Linked DNA regions of Homo sapiens: region 2 is linked to region 1. A link means that fine-mapping ties the variant in region 1 to the expression of a gene that starts in the linked region. Tissue or cell type: whole blood. Region 1 holds a variant in brackets; the other region holds the start of a gene. All regions are shown on one strand. Distances are between the middles of the regions.

What was found. PIP is the estimated chance that this variant, and not a neighbour inherited with it, causes the effect.
Region 2: it holds the start of KIAA0232, and the variant in region 1 is fine-mapped to the expression of KIAA0232 in whole blood (INTERVAL, PIP above 0.99).

Annotation. Positions count from the first base shown.
Region 1 is chr4:6,878,583-6,889,144 of GRCh38, forward strand. It overlaps KIAA0232, which reads left to right. Exons shown (of 10, transcript NM_014743.3): 10 at 2,205-5,582. The coding sequence ends at 2,384. Among named protein-coding and RNA genes, the nearest start is that of TBC1D14, 26 kb to the right of the region's middle. The variant GGTGT/G (reference allele first, on the strand shown) is at 4,043.
Region 2 is chr4:6,778,251-6,786,250 of GRCh38, forward strand. It overlaps KIAA0232, which reads left to right and starts at 4,477. Exons shown (of 10, transcript NM_014743.3): 1 at 4,477-4,591. RefSeq lists silencers at 3,857-4,736, 4,797-5,566.

The DNA of each region.
Region 1 (10,562 bases):
GGTATTGATGACTACCTTCTTCTACTACCCATTCTGTATTCCCTTTGCCTTCAGCAAGCACCTCAGCAGGTTGTGGTTTTTTCCCGGTGGAGTGACCTAAACCTTCATTCCTAAAGAGTCTGAGCCATTTGTATCCTGTCTGGACTGGGCTGTTGTAGTTTCCCGTTAACTTGAATCACACGGCATGTGATCAAGTTGACACTCAGTATTAACCATCTGTCAGTGTCCATTCAAGTCCTGTGAGAACTGTCTGCCCAAGCACCTGTAGCATCATCGTCCACGTCCTGCTGCCCACTGACCTGTCCGGCTCCACACATGAAGGCAGATGTTTGAGGCCCCCACCAGCTCTCTCCTCAGTGACTAGTTCACATCATCCCTCCAGCCTCAAACCCCAAACTGAGACATATTCCCCAGTCCTCTCTCTCATCTTCCACACACAGTCTGCCTGCCAGTCCTGACCGTTCCCCGCTGTCAGCCACTTCGCATCTCCCACTTCTCCTCCTCTCCATCATTACCACTTTGTTCAAGCCACTGTCCCTGCTCCTGAACAGCTGCCATGGTCTTTTCATTGTCCTTCCTGCTTTCGTCATCCTTTCCAGCCTTCTCTCCACACAGCAGACAGAATGACCTCACGAGCAGTATCTTGTTCAGTCCTCACAACGACCCTGTGAGGTAGGTACTGTTGTCATGCCTGTTCTGCAAAATAGGAAAGTGAAGCACAAAAACATCAGGCGCCGTGTATCCGAGGCCAGAGAGCCACAGCTTCAGTGTGGACCTGAACTCTGAACCTCAGCAGTCTGCCTCTAGGACCCATACTGCTAACCATGATGTCACTTTGCTGTTGCATTTGAGACAGATCCAAACTCCCCGCCACGCCTCTACAGCCCTGTATGTTTTGCCCCCGTCTGCCTTTGACCTCATCTGTCTCTGCTCTCCCCTTACTCTGTGTGGCTTTTCTGTGCTTCTGCCTCAGGGGTTCTCAACCAGGGGCAATGCTGCCATTTGGAAATGAGGTGGGAGTGCTGCTAGTTACTATGGCAGGGTGAGGGGAGCTTTGTAATGACTGTGACTGAGGAGGGGCCACCACTGCATCTCATGTCCTGGGGTCCAGAGATGCTGACCATCTGGTGTAGGGGAGACAGTCCGACACCACAGAGTGTTGGCACCTCTGCATGGCTGGCTTCTCAGCTGAGCGGGCCTCTTCTCCAAAGAACTCCCTTCCCAACACACCCATCTGCAGTGCCCCCCCTCACCATCTGTACTGTGTCACTGCAAACTCCCTTCCCAACACACAGGTCTGCAGTGTCCCCTCACCATCTGTACTGTGTCACTGCAAACTCCCTTCCCAACACACCCGTCTGCAGTGCCCCCTCACCATCTGTACTGTGTCACTGCAAACTCCCTTCCCAACACACAGGTCTGTAGTGTCGCCTCACCATCTGTACTGTGTCACTGCAAACTCCCTTCCCAACACAGAGGTCTGCAGTGTCCCCTCACCATCTGTACTGTGTCACTGCAAACTCCCTTCCCAACACACAGGTCTGTAGTGTCGCCTCACCATCTGTACTGTGTCACTGCAAACTCCCTTCCCAACACAGAGGTCTGCAGTGTCCCCTCACCATCTGTACTGTGTCACTGCAAACTCCCTTCCCAACACAGAGGTCTGCAGTGTCCCCTCACCATCTGTACTGTGTCACTGCAAACTCCCTTCCCAACACACAGGTCTGTAGTGTCGCCTCACCATCTGTACTGTGTCACTGCAAACTCCCTTCCCAACACACCCGTCTGCAGTGCCCCCCTCACCATCGGTACTGTGTCACTGCAACTGGCACATGTTGGTTTGCTCGTTCATCTCCCCAGCGAGCCTGGCATGCGCCTTCCACTGCTGGAGTCCCTGTGCCCAGTAAAGTTCCTGGTGCATAGCAGGTACTCAAAGACTTTGAAAATGAAATAATTCTTTATCCTACCCTAACATGGCTAACATTTTGTCCAAGTGACTGAACATGTGGAATTAGGATTTTGGATCCTTCATGGATCAGAGAAGAGAGGCGGTTTTGCTCTGAAACAGTAAAACTCTGCATGTTTGTAACTCCACAGGAAAACACTGATGATTTATTATTTCTTCTTTGTATATAGATAGAGTATCTCACCCTTTTGGGGAAAAAAAAGTCTTTTTGATGTGTTGAAAATTGTTTTAATCTTAGGTGTCTTCTGTTTATGAAGCAAGATGTACAGGAGAGAGAGATTCTGGAGCAAAGTCAGATGGCTTCCGCGGAAAGATGTGCTCCAGCGCCAGCTCCACCTCGGAAGAGACAGGCTCAGAAGGCGGAGGCGAGTGGGTGGGCCCTAGTGAAGAGGAGCTCTTTTCTCGAACTCATCTCTAAACCTGCAAAATAGTACAAATTATTGTTTAAAAATGATATGTGATGGAAAATTACTCTTCAGTGAGACCTGTTAATCTAAAACAACAACTTAGGTTTCCTCTTCAATTAACTGATTCAGATTGGTAATAATTATCTTTCTCTTCTTGCTTATTTTAGAGTTGAGGACAGCTATCCTGTTAAAGATTTTTTTTCCCAGCTGTTAAATTCTTGGCTATTTGAAATAGACTAGATTGTGTTGTCAAATCAAGAATGGGTGTGCATGTGCTTGTCTTAGAAGTATCACTGCTTTTTGCATCTTAACTGCAGTTAATTTTCCTTCCGACTGCGGTTATATCACTATGACCTTACTAGCATTGCAGTGTCAACAACCACTTCTGCTCTTCAGAGACTTCAGCTTTGGAGCATTTAGGCTTTGTTCTCCAAGAACTGGGATATCCATTCTTACCCTACAGTGGCTTGATGCCTTTCTGAAGGCGAGAGGGAAGCCTGGGTGACTCAGCGGTGGTCTCCATTCAGCAAAATCTCATGTACATTTCCAGTAGGAACCGCAGAGGTGTGCTTTTCAAGACTCACCAAATACTGTGTTTTCTCTCTTAGGATTTCTTTTCCCCTAAAGTATCACGGAAGATACTATGGTTCGTGACTTTCTTGCTAACTGAAGAAGCCAAGGATTTGGGGTGTGGGGTCGTATGCGAGACACAGTGGGGTAAGGGTGCATACCCCACCCCTTACCTGCTCTCATACTGCAGTTACATTTACACCAAAACCCCATGCAGGGTTCTTTGTGGTGAGTGTTCCATACGTGCTAAGGACCTTAGTTACAGATTGTTACTTTCTGGTGACCTATGTTGAATTGAAACCCCCAAAACTTGAAATTGTGAACATTTGACATGCAGTAAAGGCCACCTCATCACCCAGAGAAATCTTTGGCTGCTGCAGCTAGCCGCTTCTTGGCTGTGATGTAGTATAGCTTCGATCTCATTTTGTGTTTGAGAGAATGTTCTGGGCAAGTTCTGTGTGTGGTGGGTTGGGGCGGGTAGAGTCATGAGTTTTCCACATCCCTGTGTGGTGGTTTTGCTGACTGTCGCTCCGTGGGACTGGCTCCCGTTTCTCCTTGGTGAGCCCGGGGAGCCGGCGCATCTTGTGAGTCGCGTCTGTGCATGGCGATCCGCTCCTCCGGCTCTCATGGCATTGTGCCACAGGCAGAGGCCAGGAGGAGCAGTATGTGCACAGCCGAAACATTTTACATTTTTTACATTGTTTTTCTTTTTTAACCAACTCATTGTTTAAAAAACAAAAACAAAAAAAACCTAATCTGTGAAATCAGCGTAGCATGCCTGGAGCATCAGGAATGGCAGAAAAGTCTGATGCGCTCTAGACAGCTTCACCACTCATTTGGGCAGGCAGTAAACACACATATAATTTATTAGCTGGGAGCTGAACTGGCTGTGAAATCTATGATTTGCTTTGAACATTTGGGTTTTGTTGCCTTTTTCTTAATTGATAACACAGAAAAGAAAGTACCATCAAAGACTGTGGAGTCATTGAGGGTCTGTGTGTCCTCACCGAGAGGGACCTGGTGTGCCCGCCGGGTCGATCTTCCCACGTGTTAGGGTTTATTTTTATACAACACATTTTTTGACACTTTAAGGTGGGTG[GGTGT/G]GTGTGTGTGTGTGTGTGTGCGCGCGTGCGCGCGCGCATGTGTAAGGTTTTATGTTGCTGTTATTTATTTACGAACTTCAGATACGTTTTTATGTATTTTTCATTCTTCTGGAGCTTCCTAAAAATTGATAAGCATCTGCACTGAAATATAATTTAACAGCAAAAGTAAAAAAGGATTGAAAGTTGTAAATTCCTCATATCACTACAGTGACGATTATTCTAGAAATCGTTGCTTGTGTAGCAAAGACCAAATAAATAGATTTCAGACACAACCTTGAGCACAGTTGATTTTGGACAGCTGCTGTTTATTAGGAAAGGGCTCCAGGTGGCAAAGGTGCACACTTCCTCAGACACAGGTGAGAAGATGCAGCACCTTCCACAGGTGAATGGGACGGATTCGAAGTGAGCAAAGGGATTCACAAATTATGTATTTATTTGTTTTCATAGTTAAGTAGCTGAAGCTCAGAGGCTTTCAGCAACAGAGATGAAAGTGTGGCTTTTTAGTTTTGTGAATGGATGATCACAAAGAAAAAGCATTTTTAAAAAGTTGGCAAACGCTGAAACGCACTGTGGTATGAAGCGCATTGCATTTCCATAGCACTGAAGTACCAGTTTCCATTCCTGGGCTGAGATTGTTTTTCCCGTGGTTGTATTGTTCTGATTTCACGTACACCAGAGTAACTGATTTTTTTTTGTTTGTTTTCTTGTGGAGTTAACACCAAATAAAAATTGTAAAAAACAGTTTGTTGTTTTTATTTCTCATAGCAAAGCTTCTTTTGTAAAGAACTCCAGCTTCCTTTTACTCATGAGCATCCGTGGAAGAGCAAGTGCCCAGGTTACATTTGTTCTAGATGGAGGTCATTTAGCTCTCATTGCAGACACTGCTGAAAACATTGTGCAGCTTTGCTAGGGAAGAAAGTGGTGTGGCCTGCTGAGAAATCAGCGGCTCCTCCCCATCTCACCCCCAGCACACGCAGGGACTACTACCTGAGTCTGCAAAACACATAGCATTTTTGTCCGTGGATGGTACACAAAGCTCAATCTTTTTGTTTTCTTCTGGGGAAAAAATTAAATCTTTATATGTTAATATGATTGATATTCATTGTGCAAAAAAAATCAGTGTGTTTTTAAAGAAGTATAAGGGAAAAGGAAAACTCATATGTCCTTCTGTCACTCTGAGACATACACTGGTAACATCTGTGCAAGCCCCTTTCCAGGATTCTGAATGTACAGTATATATGAATGCATACACAGAGAAATTTACATTCAAGAGTGTACTATACTTGTTCTTCTATAACATCAGAAATAGGTTTTTACTCAGATGTCTTCATGTCGGTAATTATAGAACTACATAATTATTTTTATAGCTGTATTATGTAGATTTAACAGGTTCCTCATTGATAAAACAATGTTTTTTTGGTTGTTTATTCAGTATCTGAATAACGTTTCTATGGACATCTGTAAACATGTATGAGGGGACTTTTAAAAGTTCATGGAAAATGGAATTAAAAGAAAAATAAAAAAATATAAACTTTATTTCTCAACATAAGTTCCATCAAGTTCAAGATACTACTATAAGACATAATACCAACCATTCAGTCTATCCCTAAAGAACTGAGGCTCCTGGAAATTTCACCTTGTCAGTGTAGTCTCTGCATTGTGAACTGAAGAGAAATGGGTGCCCTTTACAGCTTTTTAAGATTAGGAAACAAAAAGTCAGAAGAAGCCCAATCAGGACTGCAAAGTGGATGCCTGATGATTTCCCATCAAAACTCTTGGAAAATGGCTCTCGTTTGCTGAGAGGAATGAGCAGGAGGAGCACTGTCATGGTGGAAAAGGGCTCTGGTGAAACTTTCCTAGGCATTGTTCTGCCACAGCTTTGGCTAACTTTCTCAAAACACTCGTCATAAGCAGATGTTAACATTCTTTGGGCATCTGGAAAGTCAGCACATACACAGTGCTTTGAGCATCCCAGAAAATGGTTGCCTGGCCTCTGCTTTTGACCAGTCTGCATTTGCTATGAGGAGACCCCTCCCACCTCTCGGTAGCCAGTGCTGTGATCACAATCACATTGTCTTCAGGATTGTGCTGGTAAAGCCATGTTCCATCTCCTGTTACAGTTCTCAGAGGAAATGCTTTAGGATGTTGATTCCTCTTGTTGAAAGTTTCCCCTGAAAGCTCTGCTGCTGTCTCCAGCTGATCTGAGTGCAGTGGTTTGGTAGCCATTGAGTGGCAAGTTTGCTCAACGTTAATTTTTCAGTCAGATCGTGTAAGCTGAACCATCTGAGGTGTCTGTGGTGTTGGGTGTTGTTTCTGCTGTTAATCATTGGTCCTCTTTGATTCAGGCATGAATAAGATTAATTTTTTCCTCACAAATTGATGAGGAGGTCTTCACCATTGTCTCATCCCTTCTTAAAACAAGTTACCCATTGGCAAACCTCTGATTTTGGCTGGGGGCGGGGCATTGTCCCCATAAGCTTTTTTGTAAAAAAATCATTGATTTTGGGCCAGGTGTGGTGGCTCACGCTTGTATTCCTAGCACTTTGGGAGGCTGAGGTGGGTGGATCACGAGGTCAGGAGATCGAGACCATCCTGGCCAACATGGTGAAACCCTGTCTTTATTAAAAATACAAAAAAATTAGCCAGGCGTGGTGGCATGTGCCTGTAGTCCCAGCTACTCAGGAGGCTGAGGCAAGAGAATTGCTTGAACCTGAGAGGCGGAAGCTGCAGTGAGCCGAGATCACGCCACTGCACTCCAGCCTGGGCAACAGAGCGAGACTCTGTCTCAGGAAAAAAAAAAAAAAAAATCACTGATCTCACCATTCTTCCACCCAAGCATCACCATAAATTTGATGTCCTTGCTTCCATTTTTAGCAGAATTCATGTTGCTCTGATAGGTGCTCTTTTCAAACAGTCATACCCTTCTTAGTGCCTCAAAGTAGATCTTAAGACATGTTATAACAAGTTAGTACAAGTTTATTTTGGTGCAAAAAATTTTTGAAATCTGTGCATAGCTCCTTTTTGGAGACAGTCTCACTGTGTCACCTAGGCTGGAGTGCAGTGGCATGATCACTGTCATCTCAAACTCCTGGGCCTAGTGATCCTCCTGCCTCAGCCTCCCTAATAGCTGGGACTATAAGCACACCTCACCATGCCCAGCTCATTTTTTAATTTTTTGTAGGAACAGGGTTGCCCAGGCTGGTCTCAATTACTTGGCCTCAATCCATCCTCCTCACCTCAGCCTCCCAAAGTGCTGGGATTACAGGCCTGAGCCATTGCACCTGGCAATAGCACAGGCCCTAAAGGATGTAGTTGGCCCACCCCCCAACACCATTTTTAAAGTCCTTACCCCACCGATTTGCAGGAGTGCAGTGATGTCATCTCGGTTCACTGCAGCCTCCACCTCCCGGAGCTCAGGCAGTCCTCCCCTCTCGGGCCAGGAATTCTGACACCACAGCTAAGTATTTTTAGAACAGCCCGGGGTGGAGTGTAAAGGCTTCTGCCTTTTTCACTGAAAGTGCTCTGGCCACTGCCCTGTGTGCCTGCTGCTGCTGCCACTACAGATGCCACTCTGGCCATGAGTGGCTGTGGCAGTGCCCAGGAGGCCTGCATCTACCAGCAGTCCAGGAACAGAAAGGAAGCCCCTGCCCCTGGTTCCTCTTGAAAGCAGCCAGTCGGATGGCGTCACAAGCTGGCCACTGTTGTGAACGCAGAGATTAGGAAATGAGCTGTCGTTTCAGAGCCCGCTGCTAGCCTTGTGCCACTGGTGTGGTTAATTAATAGCATGTTCAGGGACGGTTGCCTCAATTATCAAGCTGGTAATGATGCTGCCACCTAACGTTTGGTTGGCGTTGCTATTGTCTGTGCTAGTCATAGTCAACAGCTGACACTGAGGGCTTACTGGCTGCCACGCATTCTAAGCGCTCTTGAGTGTTAACTAGCAACCCTATGAGGGAGCTACAGCTGCTCTGTTTTACAGATGAGTAAACTGAGGCACAATGGGGCATTAGGCACTTGCAGTCTCACACTTGGTGGATGCTGGAGCCCGAATTCACCTTGGGCACTGACTGCAGAGTCCATTTAACACTGAAACCTCCATCTCACAAAATCCCACTCATTAAGTTACGTATTGTCTCTGGGCACGGTGGCTCATGCCTGTTAACCCAGCACTTTGGGAGGCCAAGGTGGGCGGATCACCTGAGGTCAGGAGTTCCGAGACCAACCTGGCCAACATGGTGAAACCCCGTCTCTACTAAAACTACAAAAATTAGCCAGGCATAATGACAGGCGCCTGTAATCCCAGCTACTCCGGAGGCTGAGGCAGGAGAATCACTTGAACCCGGGAGGCAGAGGTTGTGGTGATCTGAGATCGCGCCACTGCACTCCAGCCTGGGTGACAGCAAGACTCCGTCTCAAAAAAAAAAGTTATGTATTGTCTGCGTACTTGCAGGGAGTCCTGCTGTGTCAGCCCCGGCTGTGTGTCCTTGGGCGAGTTACTCAGTCTCACACGTTGGTATCTTTAGATGTAAATGGAGATCATAACTGGACCTCTCTCCTAAGGGTTGGTTATAAACATAAAATAGTCCATCTGCATAAATACTAGAGTGCAAACTAAAAAGTACCTGAGACAGACCTCAATTAATTTAGAAGTGTATTTTGCCAAGACTCAGGACACACCTGAGAGAGAGAGGTCTGTGCCTTTCTCCAAAGATGATTTTGAGAGCTTCTGTATTTAAAGGGGAAAAGTGGGCTGGAGGGGGAAGGGGGAGGGTGTGGTCACACGACTGAATCCACAGGTTGCGAGAGAAAAGGAGCAGGTAGGGGAGTAGTCAATTAGGTATTTGACTTGTACGCACTAAATCCTCACTTTACGTAAGATACAGTGAACACAGAGTAGCTACCTGTGGAGATAGCTGGCCTTTTTGTTTTGTTTTGTTTTTTGGACAGGATCTCACGCTTACCCAGGATGGAGTGCAGTGGCGTGATCTCGATCTTGGCTCACTGCAGCCTCAGCCTCCCGAGTAGCTGGAACCACAGGTGTGCGCCACCACACCCAGCTAATTTTTGTATTTTTTGTAGACAGAGGTTTCACCATGCTGCCCAGGCTGGCCGTGAATTCTTGGGCTCAAGCAATGCTTCCACCTCGGCCTTTCAAAGTGCTGGGATTACAGTCGTGAAGCCACCGTGCCTGGCCTGTCTGGCCCTTTCGCTGTAGCTATCTGCTTAAGAACATAAGGAAACGCAGCTTCTTGCATGAGTCTATTCTCATCTTAAGTATTTCCTTTTAGCACAGTGAATTACGGTCCCACGTTTTTATTTTCCTTTCACACTGGACTCAAAAAAAGCAAAAACGGAAATGCAAAAGAGAAGTTGCAGCACTGAGTCCAGTAACTAAGGAGACAGTTGCCTCTTTGCAGGCGGTCTCTCACTCCCTGCCCTCCCCCCTGTGCTAGCAGAGCCCTTTAAGGGCCCTTGTTGGATCTGCAGCTCCAGGCCTGCCTAGTCAGCGGGGGTCAGCAGGGGTCAGCCCCACAGAGGCCATTCATCCTTGAGTGCTGACCACAGTGCTGTCACCATGATCTCGCCCTGAAGGGAGGTCACGCTATCCCTTCGACACAGGAGACCAACTCCTTTGGCTGTCCTTGGCTCCCAGTGGTGGCTGAACCAGAGGGCAGGGGCCAGGGCAGCAGCAGAGCCAAGTGTGCCCACTGGGGCCGAGGGCTCTGGCCACCACGTCCGTTGGGGAGGATGGTGGGGAGGGCCCTGGCCTTGCAGCGAGGGGGCAGGCACACGGTCTCCCACTTCCTATCACAGTCCAGGGGTGGGGAGGACCCCACCCTCTGGCCCTGTCACAGGTGGGGACAGTGACCCTCCCCTTCCAGGTGAGGCTACATTTTGAGGCTGAGGAGCACACGAAATGCTGGTCCTCAGCAGCGCTAAGGCCAGGAGCCCCTGATGTGTGAGTTTGTGTGGGGATGTTGCCCCTGAGGAGGGGTGATAGGAAGAGCCCCCTCCTCGTGAGCTGTGACCCTGAGCCAGTGGCTCTCTCAACTGTGAGATGGGGACCCTTCTCCCTCCCAGGGCTAGGGGAGGAGAACTGGCAGGCAAAGTGTCCGCTCATTTCCCTGAATAGAATACAGGCTCCCTCCTGAGGGTTTCTTGCCGTCCCCACGTGGTCCCTCCCAGCCCTCACAGTGGGCACCAGCAGTGCTGTCCCTCCTGCCCGGGGCCCTAGAGGGAGGAGGAAGACGTGAGTCCTGGGACTGGGCAGGGAGACAGGTCAGTCCCCGCTCCACGAGTTCCTGGAGCCCTCGGGTCTACCCTGCTCTGACCGAGCTGCTATGGGTAGAGCAGATCTACCTACGGCCCATCATCTCTGCGTCTTTCCCAGCAGTCTCAGGGTGTCTGTCACCGAGGCTGAGAACCCAAAGTTCTGGCCCAGGAGCACCCGGCAGAGGTGTGAGCCGGGGTCTGCCGATGGCTCATCTGATTCCCAAGTGCAGTGCTGCTTTCCCA
Region 2 (8,000 bases), 100 kb before region 1:
GGCGGACAAGCCCAGGAGGCGGTTCTGGGCCTTGGAGAAAAGCTGGGGTAGGGGAGAGATATTAGGTGTCCTTCCATTTTCATGTTACTTAACAGCTACTGGAGTGGAGGAGACTGCCCTAGTGGTATGCAGAATGATAAGAAAGGAGGTATAAGAAAGGAGGGATAAGAAAGGAGGGAATGGGAGGGACAGAGGAAGAGGGGGTCCTGGAGATGGGCAGTCAGAGCTAAGTAGTGGGGGCTTCAAGGAGGGATGGTCGTGGGTGCTGGTATTTATTGAGTGTTTGCTGTGTGCCGGGTACCCTCTGTGTGGATTCACTTACCCCTTCACCGCAACCCTCTGAGGCAGATACTATTATTATTATGCCCACTTTACAGATGAGGAAACTGAGAGGCTAAGTAATTTACCCACATCAGTGAGCTAATCAGCCAGTGTGCTTAATCACCGTGCTCCCCTACTTCTGGTGACATTGCTGATGACGTTGTTGATTTTCCATGGACTGGGTGGAGGGATAGAAGTGAGGAACAAATTTGGAAGCAGGAGACAACCACACCTCTGATCTGGTTTGGCCCTACAGGGATAGGCAAGCGGAACAAGGCGTTATTCCTCTGTCTTTTCCTGCACTAGGAAGCCGAAACCCTCAGAAGGTCAGGGCCTTGCTCAAGGTCAGACCATGGGGCTATGCCAGAGGCTTGAACTCTCTTTAGGCCTGGAATGATGTTACTACCCCTAAGAGAGGAGAGCCACTGAGAGGAGAGGCTGTCAGAATGCGGGTGCAGGCCTGGGGTGGTTAAGAGAGAAGGCCATGATGTGGGCCACCTTGACTGACAGCATCTGAACTGAGATGCCTAGTTAGTATCCCAAGTGAGGGTCTTGGTCCCATGGGGAGGCAATGGGGAGATTATCTGGTCAGGGTTTTATCTTGGCCTCATTCATTTAAAAGTCATCTCAGGATGGATTTTAATGATACTGTGTGGCCCAGTAGCAAGCACAGGGCTAAAATGAAATCCTGGTGCTGCCTTTTAGTAGCAGTGTGGCCTGTGCAAGCCACCTAAGTCTCCAGAGAAGCCTTGGCTTCTGTGGCTGCAAAATGGGGATCATCTCTTCCCTGCCTGGTATTGTGGGAGTTAAGGACAATGTGAGCAAAGCACTTGGCATGCACCTGGGGGTCAGTAAACAGGAGCTGGCATTGCTCGTGTCAGGTGACAGGTGAGGATTTGTATATCATTTATCAAAGTGTAGCTTCATTGAAATTTTGTTTCTAAATCTCTCTCTCTCACACACACACACACACACACAGGCACAGAACAAAGGAGATTTTTGAAATCTTCCTGCCCAAGTCCCTTGTTGTGCAGATGGGGAAACTGAGGCCCAGAGAGGGAGATTATGTACCCAAGATCACAGAGTCGAAGAGGCCTGGCCCCTGCCTGCCGTCAGTCCGTGTGCCACACGACATCACAAAGCATCCCGGACCCAGCCTCATCCCTGCTGTTCACTAAGCATACACATTACACAATCACTGCCCCAGATGGCAGCTGCTAGAATCCTCGCTAGCATCGAACATCCAAGTCAGAGGGCACTCAGAGTCGTCAGCTTCCTCCAGCATTGCCTTACCCGGCTGTAGGGGTTAAAAAGCTGTGGCAGGTGCTCCTGAGACTAGAGAAATGAAATGAATGATCTCAGACATACACAGGAGACAATGGTTTCTTCTCAGAAAATGCTGAAGGGGGAGTCTACCGCCTCCACACCAACCCTGCCTTAACGCAGGAGTCCTCTGGCCTCATTTGCATTCCCTAGGGATCTTAGCCCACAAGAGGGAGAAAGCTACTGTTCTCCTGAGTTTAAGTTGGCTGATCTCTACCCGGGAGCCTGAAGGAAGGTCGTAGGCAGCGTGGCACACTACAGGGGGTAAGGGGCTCATGCAGAAGAGCCCTGTTCCTGATTGCTCAAGGGAAGGTGGGATTGTTTTCTCCCTGATGTGCACTCTGACTACATCACAGATGATAGTTCAGTCCTGCACCTACAAACTGGCAGGCTCCGTGCTGGGCTCTGGGCATATGAAAATAAGCACCACAGGCAAAATGCCTGCTCTTGTGAGATACAGGTCTTGAGTGAGGAGGCTGAGATGAATGAGGAAACAAACATACAAACGAGATGATCTCAGATACTGATAAGAGCTGTGAATAAAGAAACAAAATATAGCAGTGGCATCATGACTGGGAAGGTTGGCTACTCCAAACTGGGCATCTAGATGTCTCTGGGCAGGTGACATCGTAGCAGGGCCTTTAACAAGAAGGAACCAGCCACGCAGAGGTCTGGGGAGGGAGTTCCTCACAGAAATCAGCAGATGCAAAGGCCCTAAGGTTGGAGTCAGCTGAGACTCCTAGGATTTTTATCAAAATAATTTGGAGGACAGGAGGCTATTTTGTTAAGAAAACAAAGTAAACAAGACACTTTCTTTCCCTAATCTGTCATCTTTCCCCACCAGCTCCAAATCCTATTAATACAAGATAATTCCTACTTAAAAACCTCTTCTTCCAAGAAGTCTTCAGGTTCTACTAGTTCATGGTAGAACTAGTATAAAAACTGGTCTGTGGCAAAGTAATAAAAAAAAAGGTCAATAAACTCTGTGTGTGTGTGTGTGTGTGTGTGTGTCACTATACAGGTGCCAACCGTGTTTCCTTTCTTCAGAACTGAGATATACTGTTATTACTTTTCAAAAAATTTTGCTGTTAATACTCTTTTGTAAAATATGATGTAGATGACAGATATGTCACCAATGTAGCAAAAATCAAAAGCTGACCATCCTTTGCAAATCCCCCATACTTTGGTCTGTGAAATCCTGGAGCCTGGAGGCACCTGTGAACTAGGCTCTGAAGCTCTGCTACTCTCCCCTCCTCTACTCCCAAGTGGCCCTGGATTTCCCATACCCTTTCCATTCTCGACACTGTTTTTAGAGTTTGAGTTCCAGGAGCACAGGGACTGTGCGTTCCCGGCACTGAGCCAGGTCCACAACAAGCACTCAGAAGAAACTGACTGAATGAACGTGTGATTTATGACGATATACATTCACCTGAGCGAATGCTCAGAGAATACAATTAGAAGCAAACTGGTTAAGGGAGACAGTAGTGTAAAGGAAACGAAACCCCATATTTCAGAGCCAGGAGCCTGGGTTCACATTCTGTCTCCTGCAAGAGGTGGTTTAGCAAGGTCAGAAGGCCCTGTCCACTCGGTAGCAGCCAGGCTTGGGTGAAATCACTTTCTTTCAGCCTCAGCTTCCTCACCAGTTAAATGCGGATGACAAAGATTTGTCCCACGATTTTTGTAAAGAACAAAAAGATATGTTCGCAGAAAAAACACTCTGTAGATAGTACGTAAGCGACAGTTCCTCGGTTTGTCCTTCCATGGATGCATGGAGCATCTAGCCAACTCAGCAGATGACCCCTCTCCAGTGTTTCAGCATCTGCTTCTCCCACAAGCCCGTGAGCTGGTGCAGGAAATTCTCCAACAGGTTCTGAACAGAAAAGCATAGTGCCTGGCACCTAGTGGGTGCTGCATAAATGAACAAATGACCCCAGGTAAGTCACTCCTCCCATTGGACCTCTTTCTTCTAAGTAATCTCCCTTCCTTTTCCAGGTCCATGATACTTATTTGCTTTTTTAGAACAGGCCTAGGAGTCACATTTAGGGAAGGTAGGTGGCTGTGAAGACACTTTGATTAAAAGGTTAATGCACATTTTTGGTTTCCACTTTCGAAGCTTCCAGAATTTATTTTTGCCTAGTTAATAAAAAAAGAGCCATGTCACATTTCTTTAGCTTGTCTTCTGGGTTCCTTAACAACAACAACAAAAAATTAAAGTCTTTATTTTAAGCCGCCTACTCCAGCCATCCCAGGACGCGGCGAGGAGGGGGCGCGGACAGGTGGCGCGCGAGCCCGGGAAGGCGGGGGCTGCACCGGGCCGCGGGCGGGGCCGTGCACGCCGAGCCCCACTTCCCCAGCGCGGGCCGGGGGCGGGGCGCGGCGGCAGAGTTCGGGGGCTTCTGCCGAGGGCAGTCCCACGTGCCCCTCCGCGGGAGACGTCTCCTCTCCGACGCCCAGCACGCTGGGGGGCTCCCGCTTCCTGCCTGCCCTCTCTACTGCTTGCCCTCTCACCTCCCAGCGGCTTCCGCCGCCCCGGCCAAGCTGCACGGCGCGTCCCGGGCCCTAGACCCCCACCCGCCAGGCACCAGCCCCGGCCTGTCCCCTCGCGCCGTCAGCCCGCGGCCCACCGCCCGCGCGCGCCCGCAGCCCAGCCGGAGGGAGGGGCAGGGGCGGGGACCGGCCGGCGCTGATGTAATCCCGGCACCCGGGCGGAAGGATATGGAGCGCGCCCCTGGTTGGCGGGGCGCTGAGGCCAGTTGCCGGGTAACGGAGCGGAGCGGCTCCCGGCGCGCCGCCTCCCGCCCTCCGCGGAGTGGCGCTGGGGCCGCCGCCGCCGCTTTACGTAAGGCGCAGGCCAGGGCCGCCCGGCGCTCGGCAGCCGCCCGCAGCCCCTCGGAGCCAGAGGAGAGGCGCCCCCGCCGGCCGCCGCGCCGCCCGGCAGCCTCGGCAGGTACTGCGGGCAGGCGGCGGGGAGGGAGGGCGCGGAGCAGCCCCTCGGCCGGGTGGGCGCGGGCCGGGGAGGCCGGACGCTCGCCGCCGTGGGGCTCCGGGGCCAGCCCGAGGGAGGCCGGGCCGCAGCCGAAGGCTTCGGGGTCAGCCCAAGGGAGACAGGGCCGCCGCCGTGGGCTCTGGGGCCAGCCTAAGGGAGGCCGAGCCGCCGCCGAGGGCTCCGGGGCCAGCCTGAGGGAGACCGGGCCGCCGCCGGGGGCTCCGGGGCCAGCCTGAGGGAGGCCGGGCCGCCGCTGATGGCTCCGGGGCCAGCCTAAGGGAGACCGGGCCGCTGTTGATGGCTCCGGGGCCAGCCGAGGGAGGCCTGACCGGCCCCGATCCTGGTGGTGCCCGGGCGTGCGGGTGAGCTGTGGGCCCTGGGACCCCCGCCCCGACCCCAGGACGCCGGGACACCAGCTTGCGGCTCTTGCGCCCGGGTGGGCTGTGGACGATGAGTCCGCACAATGGGTTGCCGTTGGCTGCCTCCTGCCTGGGGCAGGTGTCGCCGCGCCGGGGCGGCTCTTCTAGGGGAGACGAGGCGGGGGTGCTTAGACTTGATAGGACGTAGAGCCCCGAAAGTGGGCGCGGGAGGAAGGCTTCGGCCGGTGGGAGGCGCCCGGCGTCCCCGGCAGCGGGGTCAGGCCGGCAGCCTGGGCCGCTCGCTCGCGTTCCCTCCGTTCCCCTCCCCTCCAGCATTGTCCTTTTGGGGCCCCGGGAAGGGAAAACCGCCGGGCGGGGGAGGAGGGCCGCAGGCGGGCGGGGCCGGGAGGCCGGCTGAGCGACTGGCGCGCCGGCCTATGGCGCGGGGCGCGGCGCGGGGGGCGGGCCTGGCGGGCGGGGCCGGTGCGGCGCAAGGTTTGGCGAAGGTTACAGCTGGAGCTAGGAGTGACAGGCCCACAGTCATCCGTGCGCTGCGCGGCAAACCCTGTCGCGAGGGCGCCCCGAGTTGCTGCGGGGCCTGATCCGGCTCCTTTCCAACAATACGCGTCTGCAGCCGGCATTTCTAGAGCTCTCTGCTTCTTCCCGCTGGAGAAACCAGTGTGTGTCGTGTTGGAATGCTTCGTCTTGCCCTAGAATTCAGCTTGCGTCTTGTGGTGCGCAGGTGACAGGACCTGCCGAACTCTTGGTACAGACCCCTAAATCATGGCAGAACTGTCTTGATTTCTTTTTTGCCACCTTTCCGTTTTTGTCCTCTATAGGCAAGCTATAAAGATTTAACCCAGTTAAAAACAGGAGGGAGATTCAGCGGAGAGGAGGCATGCGAGATTCTTTGGAAAAAATTATATAAATGTAGTTCTTGCTAATAATTACCTGGGTTGGATACTTTGACTTACTGTTCAAGTTCCTAAGAAGGGATTTTACATTTCTGGGTCTTGTTTTAAAAACTGTTAGAAAGCTCGTGAGGGGGTAGGGACAAGCAGTTTTGGTAATAGGCGATGCTGTGGATAAAACTGTGCGGTAAAATGCCCAAGCTAGATTCTTCCTATGCAAAATAAGACCCGTTCCAGAACACTTTGACCATTTCGTGGACTTAGAATTTAAAGGCGGGTGAGGGCGGGGGGGGAGGAGGAGCGGATTCTATCACTCTGCATCCTCAAGGTCAAATATTCTTCCATCAGTTATTTTGGATTGAACCATTCTTAAATAGGTCTCAGGATCTCTATGTCGCTTCCTTATGACAGAACCTATTTCCGAGAGTGTGCCTTTGCATATCTATAGAAGCTCCTTTCACTTAATATATCTTATAACTCAGATTCAATTGCTGTACTTGCTAAATAATGCATTTTTAATCATTCAAAAAGTGGTTTACAGCTTCCTTGGGTATAATGGTTTTTATGTAAGCCCGTTACATCAGTGAAATGCCAGTTTTTAAACATTGAAGGGAAGGGAGAATATTATTCTTATTTATTTCCATAGGAAGTAGAATTCAAAGTGCAGGTGCTTTTTTGTTTGCTTTGGAGAAAAAGTATAGGTCTTTAACATGACGTTAACAGAAGTCAAATCTAAGGATAATTAGCTTGTTATGCAAGTTGCAAACATTTAAGAAGATCAGATGAATTTTTTTTTTTTTTTTTTTTGAGACGGAGTCTCGCTCTGCCGCCCAGGCTGGAGTCCGCGATCTCGGCTCACTCACTGCAACCTCCGCCCGCCGGGTACAAGCGAGTCTCCTGCCTCAACCTCCCGAGTAGCTGGGACTACAGGTGCATGCCACCACCCCCGGCTAATTTTTTGCATTTTTAGTAGAGATGGGGCTTCACCGTGTTAGCCAGGATGGTCTTTCTCTCCTGACCTCGTGATCCGCCTGCCTCAGCCTCCCAAAGTGCTGGGATTACAGGCGTGAGCCACCGCGCCTGGCTGATTAGATGGATTTTTAACACTTCCAGTGGTAATATAGGGTAATGTAGCTAGCCTACTCTGTGCTATGTTGTACGGTAGCACTCTTCAAAAGAAATTAGATTGTTCTTGTTCTTTATTTTTCATTGTGTGGAAAAGTGCTGAGCCTGCGCTTTGTCCTTGTTTTTGTAGCATTTGACTTGGCAGTTAATGGCTTGTGAGCTAATTTCCTCATCTGTAGAATGGGAAGATTGATGACACCTGTTTCACAGAATAGTTGGGATGATCACTTGAGGGAAGACGTGAAATGTCGTCAAGACTCAAACCCTTTAAAAATACTCGCCTAGTGTAAGTGTTAAAACCTCAGATTACTTGCTTTGCTTAAAGTTTTTAACTTTGTCTTCAGGCTCCTCGCCACCCCTTCCTATCCATTCTTTGCCTGGCTGCCAGAGTCATCTTTCCTGAGCTCAGATCTTGTCAGTCTCTGGCTCAGTAGGCTTCTAAGACTGCCTGTGGTTTGGAGCTTAGAATTCAGAGATACCAGCATCACAATGCAGGCCCCTTGCAGTCTGGCCCCCAGTCATCTCTGTACTTTATCTTGTCCTCTTTGTCCCCTTTCCACACTGTCCAGCTAAACAAGACTGCTCTTGGTTCTCTGAACATGCCAAGCTATTTCAGACCTTCTTTGCTTATATTCTTTTCTCTTATTGGAATGTCCTGTCTCACTCCCACTCCCTCCAGTTCTTAAAAGTTCATATCAAATATTCTGTTCTCTCTGGAGTCCTTTGGAAGTCCTATTACAATGAATTATTCCTTTCCTCAATCATAGTTCTCTATTTTTCCTTCATTATTGTCTATATCATGTTGTATTATAAATTGGTCATAGTAAACTCTGGCTGTGGTGTCTATCCTATCATTTTGCCCCCAACACCTTGCTCAGGCGTTTAAACATAAGTGCTTAATGTTAAATGTAAGTGTTTAAATGTTTGCTAAATAAAGTCAAAGTCTGTAATCAACCTTAAAGAGTATGTTAATAT